2 separate regions of the Homo sapiens genome follow, and region 2 is reported to be linked to region 1. The links are microRNA targets in miRTarBase. Many come from high-throughput screens and were not tested one by one. Region 1 holds a microRNA gene; the other region holds the end of a gene's coding sequence.

Evidence for each region. Region 1 holds the annotated microRNA hsa-miR-760 (CGGCUCUGGGUCUGUGGGGA, at 3,381-3,400, opposite strand). A microRNA usually pairs through its seed, bases 2 to 8, with sites in the 3' UTR of a target mRNA and lowers its output. Matches are read on the target gene's strand: a 7mer-m8 pairs with bases 2 to 8, a 7mer-A1 pairs with bases 2 to 7 and ends in A, and an 8mer does both.
Region 2: miRTarBase lists LYRM2 as a target of hsa-miR-760. Seed matches in the 3' UTR shown: 7mer-m8 at 2,128-2,134 and 7mer-m8 at 2,136-2,142.

Annotation. Positions count from the first base shown.
Region 1 is chr1:93,845,103-93,850,279 of GRCh38, reverse strand. It overlaps MIR760 (microRNA 760), which reads right to left and starts at 3,448; the gene lies at 3,369-3,448. It overlaps TRR-TCT1-1 (tRNA-Arg (anticodon TCT) 1-1), which reads right to left and starts at 2,707; the gene lies at 2,623-2,707. It also overlaps a transcript of BCAR3 not described here. RefSeq lists enhancers at 2,298-2,347, 2,562-3,352, 4,028-4,157 and silencers at 3,048-3,187, 3,368-3,747, 3,838-3,897.
Region 2 is chr6:89,632,599-89,637,598 of GRCh38, reverse strand. It overlaps LYRM2 (LYR motif containing 2), which reads left to right. Exons shown (of 3, transcript NM_020466.5): 3 at 246-5,000. The coding sequence ends at 326. It overlaps ANKRD6 (ankyrin repeat domain 6), which reads right to left. Exons shown (of 16, transcript NM_001242809.2): 16 at 3,778-5,000. Among named protein-coding and RNA genes, the nearest start is that of MDN1-AS1, 3.4 kb to the left of the region's middle. RefSeq lists an enhancer at 1-104.

The sequences.
Region 1 (5,177 bases):
CCCTACAAGGACTGACCCTACTAAATGGTAAAACAGCACAGTTCTGGTGAATCAAAATTAACAGAAAAGTCAGTGGAATAGAGCAGAGAATCCAGAAACCCATATGCAGCAGAGAATCCAGAAACCCATATGCATGTGGGAATTTAGAAAATTATAAATGTGGGCCGGATGTGGTGGCTCTTGCCTGTAATCCCAGCACTTTAGGAGGCAGAGGCAGATGGATCGCCTGAGCTCAGGAGTTCCAGACCAGCCTGGCCAACATAGCGAAACCCCGTCTCTACTAAAAATACAAAAATTAGCCGGGCGTAGTGGCATGCACCTGTAATCCCAGCTACTCAGGAGGCTGAGGCAAGAGAATTGCTTGAACCTGGGAGGTGGAGGTTGCAGTGAACTGAGATTTGTGCCGCTGCACTCCAGCCTGGGCAACAGAGCAAGACTCTGTCTCAAAAAAAAAAATTATAAATGTGGCATTTCAAATGACATCGTGTAGAAAAGAAGGAGTGTTCATTAAAAGTGATTTTGGGACAAAACTTCCACTTCACTCCTTATACAAAAACACATTCCAGATGAAGCAAAGATAAACAAAACCATAAAAATAAAGCCATTAAAGAAATAACTTAATAATCTGAGTGTATTATGGCCCCAAACCTAGAAGCCATAAAAGACTGATAAATCCAAATACATGAATCATGAATTTCTGTAAGACAGAAAAACAAAACAAAATACCATAAACAAAGTCAAACGACAAAAAGACTGAAAAAGAATAAGTGTAACATATATCACAAAGGGCTGTTTTCCATCATACCACAGAAAAATGAACACAACTCAAGAACAGATAAATCACAGGAAAAAAATTACAAATTATTCTCTGTATGGAAAGGTACTCATCTTGATTCATAATAAAAGACACAGTCCAGGCGTAGTAGCTCCTGTCTGTCATCCCAGCACTTAGGGAGGCCAAGATGGGAGGATTTCTTGAGTCCAGGAGTTCAAGACCAGCCTAGACAACATAGAGTGACCCCCATCTCTACAAAAAATTTTAAAATTAGCCGGGTGTGTTGGCATGTGCCTGTACTTCCAACTATTTGGGAGGCTGAGGTGGAAGCACTGCTTGAGCCCAGGACGTTGAGGGTGCAATGAGCTGTGATAGTGCCACTGCACTCCAGTCTGGGCAACAGAACAAGACCCTGTCTCAAATAATAATAATAATAATATAAATACAAATTTTAAAAAATCAATATAAGAGACGAATTAAAATCACAGCTAGAAACCACCTTTTGTGAGTTGTGGGGAAACAGGCACTCTCACACATTGCTAAGGAGAGAAAAATGGATACAATCTCTATGGGGCAATTTGCCAATATATATTAAAAAATGTACAGATTAAGAACGCACAAACCTTTGAACCAGCAATTCAACTTTCTAGGAATCTATCCTACAGATAGATGTACCTGTACTTGTGTACAATAATAAAAGAACAAGGATGTTCACTGATGCATTGTTTGTAATAGGAAAATACTGGCAATCTAAATGTCCAGCTATTAGGGACTGTTAAATCATTACCATACATACGTACAATGGAACGAGGCAGCTCTACATATATTCATAAGTAAAACAAGCCAGTATAGCATACTACCATTGTGTTTTTAAAAGGATATGTATCAATAACATTGTTATTTACGACATATTTATGACAAAAGATGTTAAAAATGCTGATATGGGCATAAAATAAATCTGAAAATATTTCCAAGAAACCATTACCACTAATGGCTTGTGGAGAGAATTGCAAGGCTGGACTATAGGAATAACATGGATGTTTACTTTTCCCTGTATCTTTTTTGACAATTTTGGATTTTGTATCTTTTGTGTGAATTACCTTTCATTGTTGTTTTACGAGTTTTAAGATTCCATTCATTCCTGGATTTATTTGCTAACCTTGTACAAAGTTAACAGTTGTCAGAAAAAGATATAGTAATTCCTGTCTTGAGGAGCTGATGGGCACTGGGCCTAGGACCTCTTTGCACTGGAATAATGGGGGAGGGGAGCGGGTGACCTTATCAGAAATGCAGATTCCTGGGCCCCACCCCAGACGGACCGAATTAAGAGTCCCAGAGTGACGGCAGAAATCTCCATTTTTGACGGGCTCCCGCTGGGATTCGGGTGTCTGCTCATCTGGAAGCCTCCATGCTGGAGAGGTAGTCAGCACAGCGCACGCAGGGCGTAGGCGTGTTTTCTCGTCCCTCCCTCGCAACCACAGTCCCGCTCAAGGCGTGGGGGTGTCACCCGAGACCCGGGCCTCCCCTGCACTTTCCTTTAGGCCGAAACCGCGAGCCTTCGCTTCAGTGTCGCTTTTCCTTCGCCGCCGCCGCCGCCGCCGCCGCCGCTCTTCTCAGGACCTACATCGACTGCCCAGTCGGCTGAGCTGGGCCCTGGGCCACCGAGGCCCGGGGAGCTGAGGGGCTCGGGACCCTGCGAGCCGCTTAAGAAAGGACCGCAAGAACCGAATGCAGTGAACTGCGAGAGCAGGGAATGAGAGAGAAGTTAAACCGTTTAGCAAAAAAAAAAAATAAGAGACATGATGGAGGCAGAAAATAAATTGTAGGGGGGAGGGAAAAAAGCGTTACGACTCCGCCGGGACTCGAACCCGGAACCTTTGAATGCCTTCAGCCTCTAGAAGTCCAATGCGCTATCCATTGCGCCACGGAGCCACCTGTTGGAGTCTCAGCGCATCTGCTATGTTAAGCCAGAGGCGACGGCCCCGCGCTCTTCCGACCGCGCCTCCCGTCGTCAGTGTCACCGAGACCCAGCCGCCGCGCTCAGGGCACTGCCATCCGCCTCAAACGCCAGCCGCAGGCTCTCGGTCTCCCCGCAGTGGTCGCCCCTCAACAAGGTCGGCGACCCAGTTGAGCCAAGGGCGGCCGCAGTCCGACGGTCCCACCTGGTCGGTGTGAGGGCAGCCGCAACCCGGTCCCCTTCACGGTCCGGGCCCAGCCGTACGAATCACAGTCGCGCTTTTCCCTCCCCGGCTCCCTTCCTGCCCCAAGCGCCCCGCCTACCAGGTCTCTCCGGCGGCCGCTCCAGCCCGGCCGGGACCCCAGAGTTGCAGGCCCAGGCCAGCCGTTGCACCGTTAAGCCGGGCCGGTGACGCCGGGCCTTTACGTCGCGCCTGTGAGCGGCCGAGGCCGAGCGGCCTCCCCTCGGGCTGCGAGACGTAAGCGGCGACCCCTCTCGGGCCTGGGCTCTTCCCTCGCGCCCGGCCGCCGCGCCCGACCCAGCCGCGGCTGGACCTGCGCGCGAGCGCCGCCGCGCGACGTCTGTGTGCGTGCTTGTGCGTGTTTATTTGCGCGGGGTTCGAAAAACGGGGTTTGGGTTGCATTTCGCTCCCCACAGACCCAGAGCCGAATTTCTGAGGTATCCGGGCTCTGGTGGACTGAGGGGGGCGACGCGCCCCGCGCCGCAGCATCCTCCGAGAGCTCGTCTTGCCGCCAGCACCTGCCTCCAAGGACGCCGCGCAGCTGCCCCGAGCCCGCGCGCCCGGGGCCCGCGACTGCGTGGGCGGAAGCCGGGAGGGTGTCAGCACGCGTGGGAGCGCTGGGAGCATGCGTATGCGGGTGCATGTGGTCGGAGGGCGCGCGCTCGAGCGCGGCCGCGGGGTTTCCTGGTGGCTGCGAGCGGTGGGGACGGCAGCGGGCCTGGCGCCGCTGCCCAGAAGGGTGCGGTCGCCACGAATCTGAGAGGCGGCTGGGTGGGGGCCGGCAGGTTTCCAGTGCCCGCAGTGATCCCCATCCGCAAGACCCCGAAGCCCTTTGAAATAGACGGTCAAAGCCGCGTGGTTGCTCTGCGACTGCAGCGGCGAGACCGAACGCCCGGCCCCCGTTCCTATTAGCTCACAGCAGTCCCGGCCCCGCCTACGGAGGATTCGCAGGGCGGCCGCTGGGCGCGCTTTCTCGGCTCGGCCACAGCCCGTTTCTGCACCAAACCCGCCAGCCGCGGCCCACCCTGTGCTTCACCCATACCCGCCCCTGCCCAGCATCGCCAGGCCTCAAATGCAGAATAGTCTCTGGCAGAGTTCAAAGAGGGAAAGGGAAGTCCTGGGAAGAGTCCAGTGTGGTAGGGATTTTACAGTCTTACTTAACCCCAAGACGAAGCTATGGGGCGGGTACATACACACCACCGTCCCCTTTATAATATAAAGAAGGGAAACTGCAGCTAAGAGAGGTTAAAAAACTCGTGTAGGGACGCCCAGCTAGTGAGCGTGGAGAACTGTGATGAATCATATTTTGTTATGTTTGCAAACTAACACGTTAGCTTTCACGGTTTCATGAATGCTGACAGAACACACCAGACTTCTGAGTCAGAGATAAAAGACTATTACAACAAAAGCAATAGCCAGAGTATCACCATTTTTGAGTTGGCTCCCTGGACCCCAGTTCTCACAGGAACGAAGCACACGGGCCCAGATGCATGCTTACACACAAGATGGGTTGCATTACAGAAGAGGAATGCTGAGCTTGGGGAACCCACCATGTTATAGTGAGCAGTAAGCAAGCCTGCTCTTTGTTCCATAGGGAGACATTACCTCATCCCTCAAGATTGCTCGCTGCAAACACAACGCTGAGAAATGGCCCAAGTAAAGCGTGATCAGGGTCTTGCATTCTTGGCACATCTAGGAAGAACGTGCAAGGATGCGAATTGTGAATCGCTTCTCCAAACAGTAAGTGGCAGAGCCCTGATTGGTGCCAGGCCTATTTAATTATACTCTAATGTAAACAAAGTTTTATATATATATATATATATATATATATATATATATATATAAAATTGTTATGCCCCTTTAATGAATTAAATGTCTTCACATTGCATGCAGGGAGAATTCTCATATGGATAAAATTAGCCTTTAAAATGGAATATGGTTTTAAATTGTATTTATTTAAACAAATCTTTTTTGAATTCTGAAATATGCCAGGCACTGGTGGCATCTCAGGGTCTCCACTGGTCTTAGGAGTTGCTCACAGCCGAAATGGGAGAAGAGATGCTCTGTATGCCTGTGGGAAAACCATACAGAGGAATTCTGCCTGGGGTATTGGAGCCAAATCTCAAATGATGAGGAGTCATTGACGTGATTAAGTGACAGTTGAGATGCGTATATAAAAATTCTGGAAAGGGGGAATTGGGAAA
Region 2 (5,000 bases), not on the chromosome of region 1:
AAATTATTATTTTAAAATTTAGTATTTTAAAATATGTAGATAAAAGAGTATCTACACTCTTCAGCATCATCACTTGACTTTTATGTTGTACATTTTATATGTATGTATGTGGAACTCTTTTAGCTTTTCTAAAAGGCAGCAGTTCCAATAGGTAGTATTGGTTCTTGATTTTAACAGATAAAATGGTATAGCTATACCTTGTTTAACCAGGTAAAACTATAACCAGATTTCACTTTATTCTACAGGATACAATCCGGATGATGATTACTCAAGGCAATATGCAGCTCAAGGAGTTAGAAAAAACACTTGCTTTAGCAAAATCTTAACTATAGCATTATTCTGAAGGATTTTCAAAGTCTCCATGTGTTTTGTTGCATTTAGGATTAACAATGGACAACACAAAGCCCAGTCTTACTATTTATATGTACAGTATTTGGTGATAGAGAGCAAAGGAAAAACACATCAGAACAGTTGCCTTAACACTGAAAAACATACCCTGCATTTTGAAAATGTTTATGGATGTCTCAGCAGTTCTTAAAAGAAGAAAAAAACCACTAACAAATGGCCAGTAGATGCTGGACACAATCATTAGGGAAGTGTAAATCAAAACTACTATGAGGTCGGGTGTAGTGGCTCATGCTTGTAATCCCAGTACTTTAGGAGGCTGTGGTAGGTGGATCACTTGAGGTCAGGAGTTCAAGACCAGCCTGGCCAGCATGGTGAAACCTCATCTCTACTAAAAATACAAAAATTAGCTTGGTGTGGTGGTGCATTGCCTGTAGTCCCAGCTACTTGGGAGGCTGAGGCAGGAGAATCACTTGAACCCAGGAAGTGGAGGTTGCAGTGAGCTGAGGTCGTGCCACTGCACTTCAGCCTGGGTGACAGAGTGAGACAGTCTCTAAAAAAAAAAAAAAAAAACAACCCTGAGATTCACATTCACTAGAATGGCTGTAATTAAAAAGAGAAATAATAATAAGTCTTGGTGAAGATGTACAGAAATTACAGAACCCTCATACATTGCTGGTGGGAATGTAAAATGGTGTAGCCACTTCAGAAAACAGACGGTCAGTTCCTCAAAAGATGAAACAGCTGCTGTATGAGTTAGCACTTCTACCCCATGCCCATAGCCATTATTTGGCACTAAAAAGAAACGAAGGACTTATATATACTAAACATGGATAAACCTTGAAAACGTTAAGTGAAAGAAGCCGGTCACAAAAGATCACATGATGATTCCATTCATACGAAATGTCCAGAATAGGCAGAAAGATTAGTGGTTGCCTAGGCTGGCTGTAGATGGAATGGAGTAACTGCTAATGGGTGTAGGGTTCCTTTTCAGGGTGATGAAAATATCCTACAGTTAGCTTGTGGTGTAGGCTGCACAACTCTTGAATATATTCAAATCCACTGAACTGTACATTTTAAATGTAAGGTATGAATTGTATCTCAATAAAGCTGTTATTAAAAAACTCTTGAGGTGTAGGACTGAAAGTATACTGACACCAGGAGATACCCTGGAACTTTCTCGAAAAATCCTGCATTATCCCTGAGGGTTGTTCAGGTACGTTCTTCAGATGTGTCATAGTTTGATAGAGAACTCATCAAAAAGATCACCACTGGGAATCTAGATCTTTGTTGAAAAGGGAAGAGAAAGAGAAGCTTAATGAGCACATTGAAGCACTTACCAGAAAGAAGAGGGAAGACTTCTGGATGAAACCTCTGTGAGTACCTTAACATTCACATGGAAGTAGTAAAAATAAGATTCTGGGTGCAGTTCTCCAATGACAGGAAAAAAAACAAAGAGAATTTGAAGAATACGTCAGAGACAAATACATTACAACCAAAATTGACTTCAAGGCACTTTTGAAGGAGATCAAATTTATAACAAAATAATTTAGTGAAAGTGAAAGCTTGTGGAAGATGTTGGAATCATCCATCCTGAAAATTGAAGTCTTCTGTTTATCAACAGAACAGCTAAGAAGCTAATCTAAGAATGACCAGCACCTGAAAGATGTAGACAACATTTTGCAGAATGATAAATGGTATCCAGTACTGGACTGTGTCTGAGAGGCATCAACTGAATGTGGATGTTAATGACCTGGACTGTCAGGGTCCACCTCTACCTCCCAGAGCCTCAGAGCCCACAAGACAAAATAATTCTGAATACTGTTCCATGGGGGTAATCTACTAATTCAAAATGCCTGCCTGTGCCAATTTTCAGGTTTTTATGTAGATAAGTATTAGTTAACCTGTTGCAAAATGATCTGACAAACAGAAGCATTTGTGACGTTTCTGAACAGAGAACACTTTGGAAATATTTTTTGTGTGACATGATTGATAGATACATGCTATCTCTAGTAAATCTAAAATCTTGAAACTCAAAATCATCCTTTTATGGGTGTAGAAGTCAGTGATTTAATGATGCTCTTCCTAACAGTGGTGTGCATGGAAAGGTTTTCATTAAAGAGCGTATGTGGTTTGCATTTGCAAGATTCAACTAGCACAGACTCCAAGAAAACCTAAGTTTTTTTGTTTTTTAAAGCAGGTAAGGCCGGGCACTGTGGCTTACACAAGTAATCCACACACTTTGGGAGGCTGAGGTGGGTGGATCACTTTAGGTCAGGATTTCGAGACTAGCTAGGCCACTAGCTAGCCTAACCTGGTGGCACGTGCCTGTAATTCCAGCTACTCAGGAGGGCTGCCTCATATTGAACCCGGGAGGCAGAGGCTGCAGTGAGCCGAGAACACACTACTGCACTACAGCCTGGGCGAAAGAGTGAGACTCTTGTCTCAAAAAAAATAAAAAAGTGCCATCAAGTTAGAAGTTTTAAATTCATGGTACAAGCATTGCCATAGATGTGCCTGCAAGAAACACACAGATGACTTTTTTTTGAGACAGGGTCTCTGTTGCACAAGCTGGAGTGTGGTGGCGCGAACATGGCTCACTGCAACCTTGAGCTCCTGGGCTCAAGAGATCCACCTGCTTCAGATTTTCATTTAGCTGGGACCACAGGCATGTGCCACCATGACCGGCTAATTTTTTTTACTTTTCAGAGAGAGGAGGGGGAATCTCACTTTGTTGCCAGGCTAGTCTCAAACTCCTGGGCTCAAGCAATCCACCTGCCTCGGTGGCCAGAGTGCTAGGATTACAGGTGTGAGTTGTTTTTTTTTTTAAAGAGACAGTCTTACCTCATTCTGTCACCCAGAATGGAATGACTTTCTAAAATTGCAGAAAGCAGAACATATTCCTTGCTGTTTATAATATTATAGTCGTATCAAAGGGAAAGAGTATTTCTCCTTAAATAAAATTACAAATAAGAAATGTATGTTTTACTCTTACTCATAAAAGGTATTGTAGAATACAAAAGGTTTTTCAAACTGGTTTTGTCTTTGATTGGCTTTTATAATCCACACTTCAAAGAAGAAATGCATTTAACTTTTAATAACTTAGTCAAAAAGTATAATGTTGCCTTGCCTTGCATAACCTTTAACTATTGCAAATGATGTTTTGTCCTTCCCCTTTGTCCAGTATTTTCCAAATGGTCAACAGTTTAAACATTTAAGCTTGCACTGAGAAACCTTGCCACATTTCAGCAGTTTTGTTTTGCTTTTGGTGGAGAGCACCTGATCGCGACTTTACAGCCAATGTATTTACTCTAAATTACACTTTTATAGATACAAGGTAAAGTGTAGCTGGGTGAAGGCACTCAGGAGCCATAAAATGTGGTCAACCACAATAAATTAAAATGTAAGCTAAACAAAGTATTCACACTTGCATTTTTTTAATAAGGAATTTAAGATCCATAGTATCTTTAATGCTTGGAAGAGACACAAATTCAAGGTGATAAAAATATTAATTAGAAGACACATAACATGCCTCAAGTATATCAACACTTGACTCCACAAACAAGGCATAACCATGAAAACAACACTCCCTTTATTTTGGGCTCCCAAAATCAAAAGTTAGAACTAATTTATTTAATCACAGATATTTAGTATACTCAATAATGCACTAACAATTTCTTTAAAAAAACACTAATACTGTACAGTATTTCTGTGTTTTAGTTTTTCCCACAGCTGTTGAAAATTTCAGCCTTGATTTGAAACATGACCTGCATGACAGGCTATAAGTTGTCAATAGTTCTTTTTCTTTGGAAAAGTACAGTTGTGGCATTTACTCACTTTAGCAGATAGCTAAAAGGGAAAAATAAGGAAAAATATACACTGGACCTGCAGTTAAGTTTTTGACAATGCCAAGGATCAAAAACAGATGAAACAACATTTGCTGAAGATGAAAAGGTATTGCATTGGTCTTAATAGATGTTGCCATCTCTGGGTGAGGATGCTGACTGAGCCTGTTCTGTGTCTTCATCACCTCTATTTGTTTCTTCTTCTACGACAGACCTCCAAGAGACAAGATCCATGTAGTAAGCCACACTAGGTCCTTTTGACCCTTCTCATTCTTCTGTAGTCTCTTCCCTGTGACTTTTGACAAAAATACTCAGTTCACAATATTAGCTGCCTGCTTCTGATGGGTAGGAGGTAATCAAAATACTCCCACCAAAGCACTCTATGGTCTAGACTTGATACTTAAAATTTAGTTTTCAGCATTCCTCAACAAGGATACCTTGAGGTAATAGGAGATATTTTGGTAAGTGAAAATAATTCCTGCTTGGAACACAGCCTACTGAACTCAGGATTTAATTTCTTGAGTATTAGGCAGTTCTCAATAAATTGATGTATACTGAGGAATGATTCTAAAGAGGTTAGTGATATCCTGTTTGAGAATAGATTTAGAAAACTGAAGGTACTCTCCAGCTCTACAATTCTGTATTAGGAACAATAGGGAAATGAGAAAGTGCCTCTATATTGCAATCTAATGAGTCTCTGGGGGAAGACTGTCTACCTGCGTAGTAGTTGAGAACAAGACAAGCTCCCAAACACATGAAAATCAACTTGAAATAACATCAAATTCAGCCTGGGCAATATCATGAGACCTT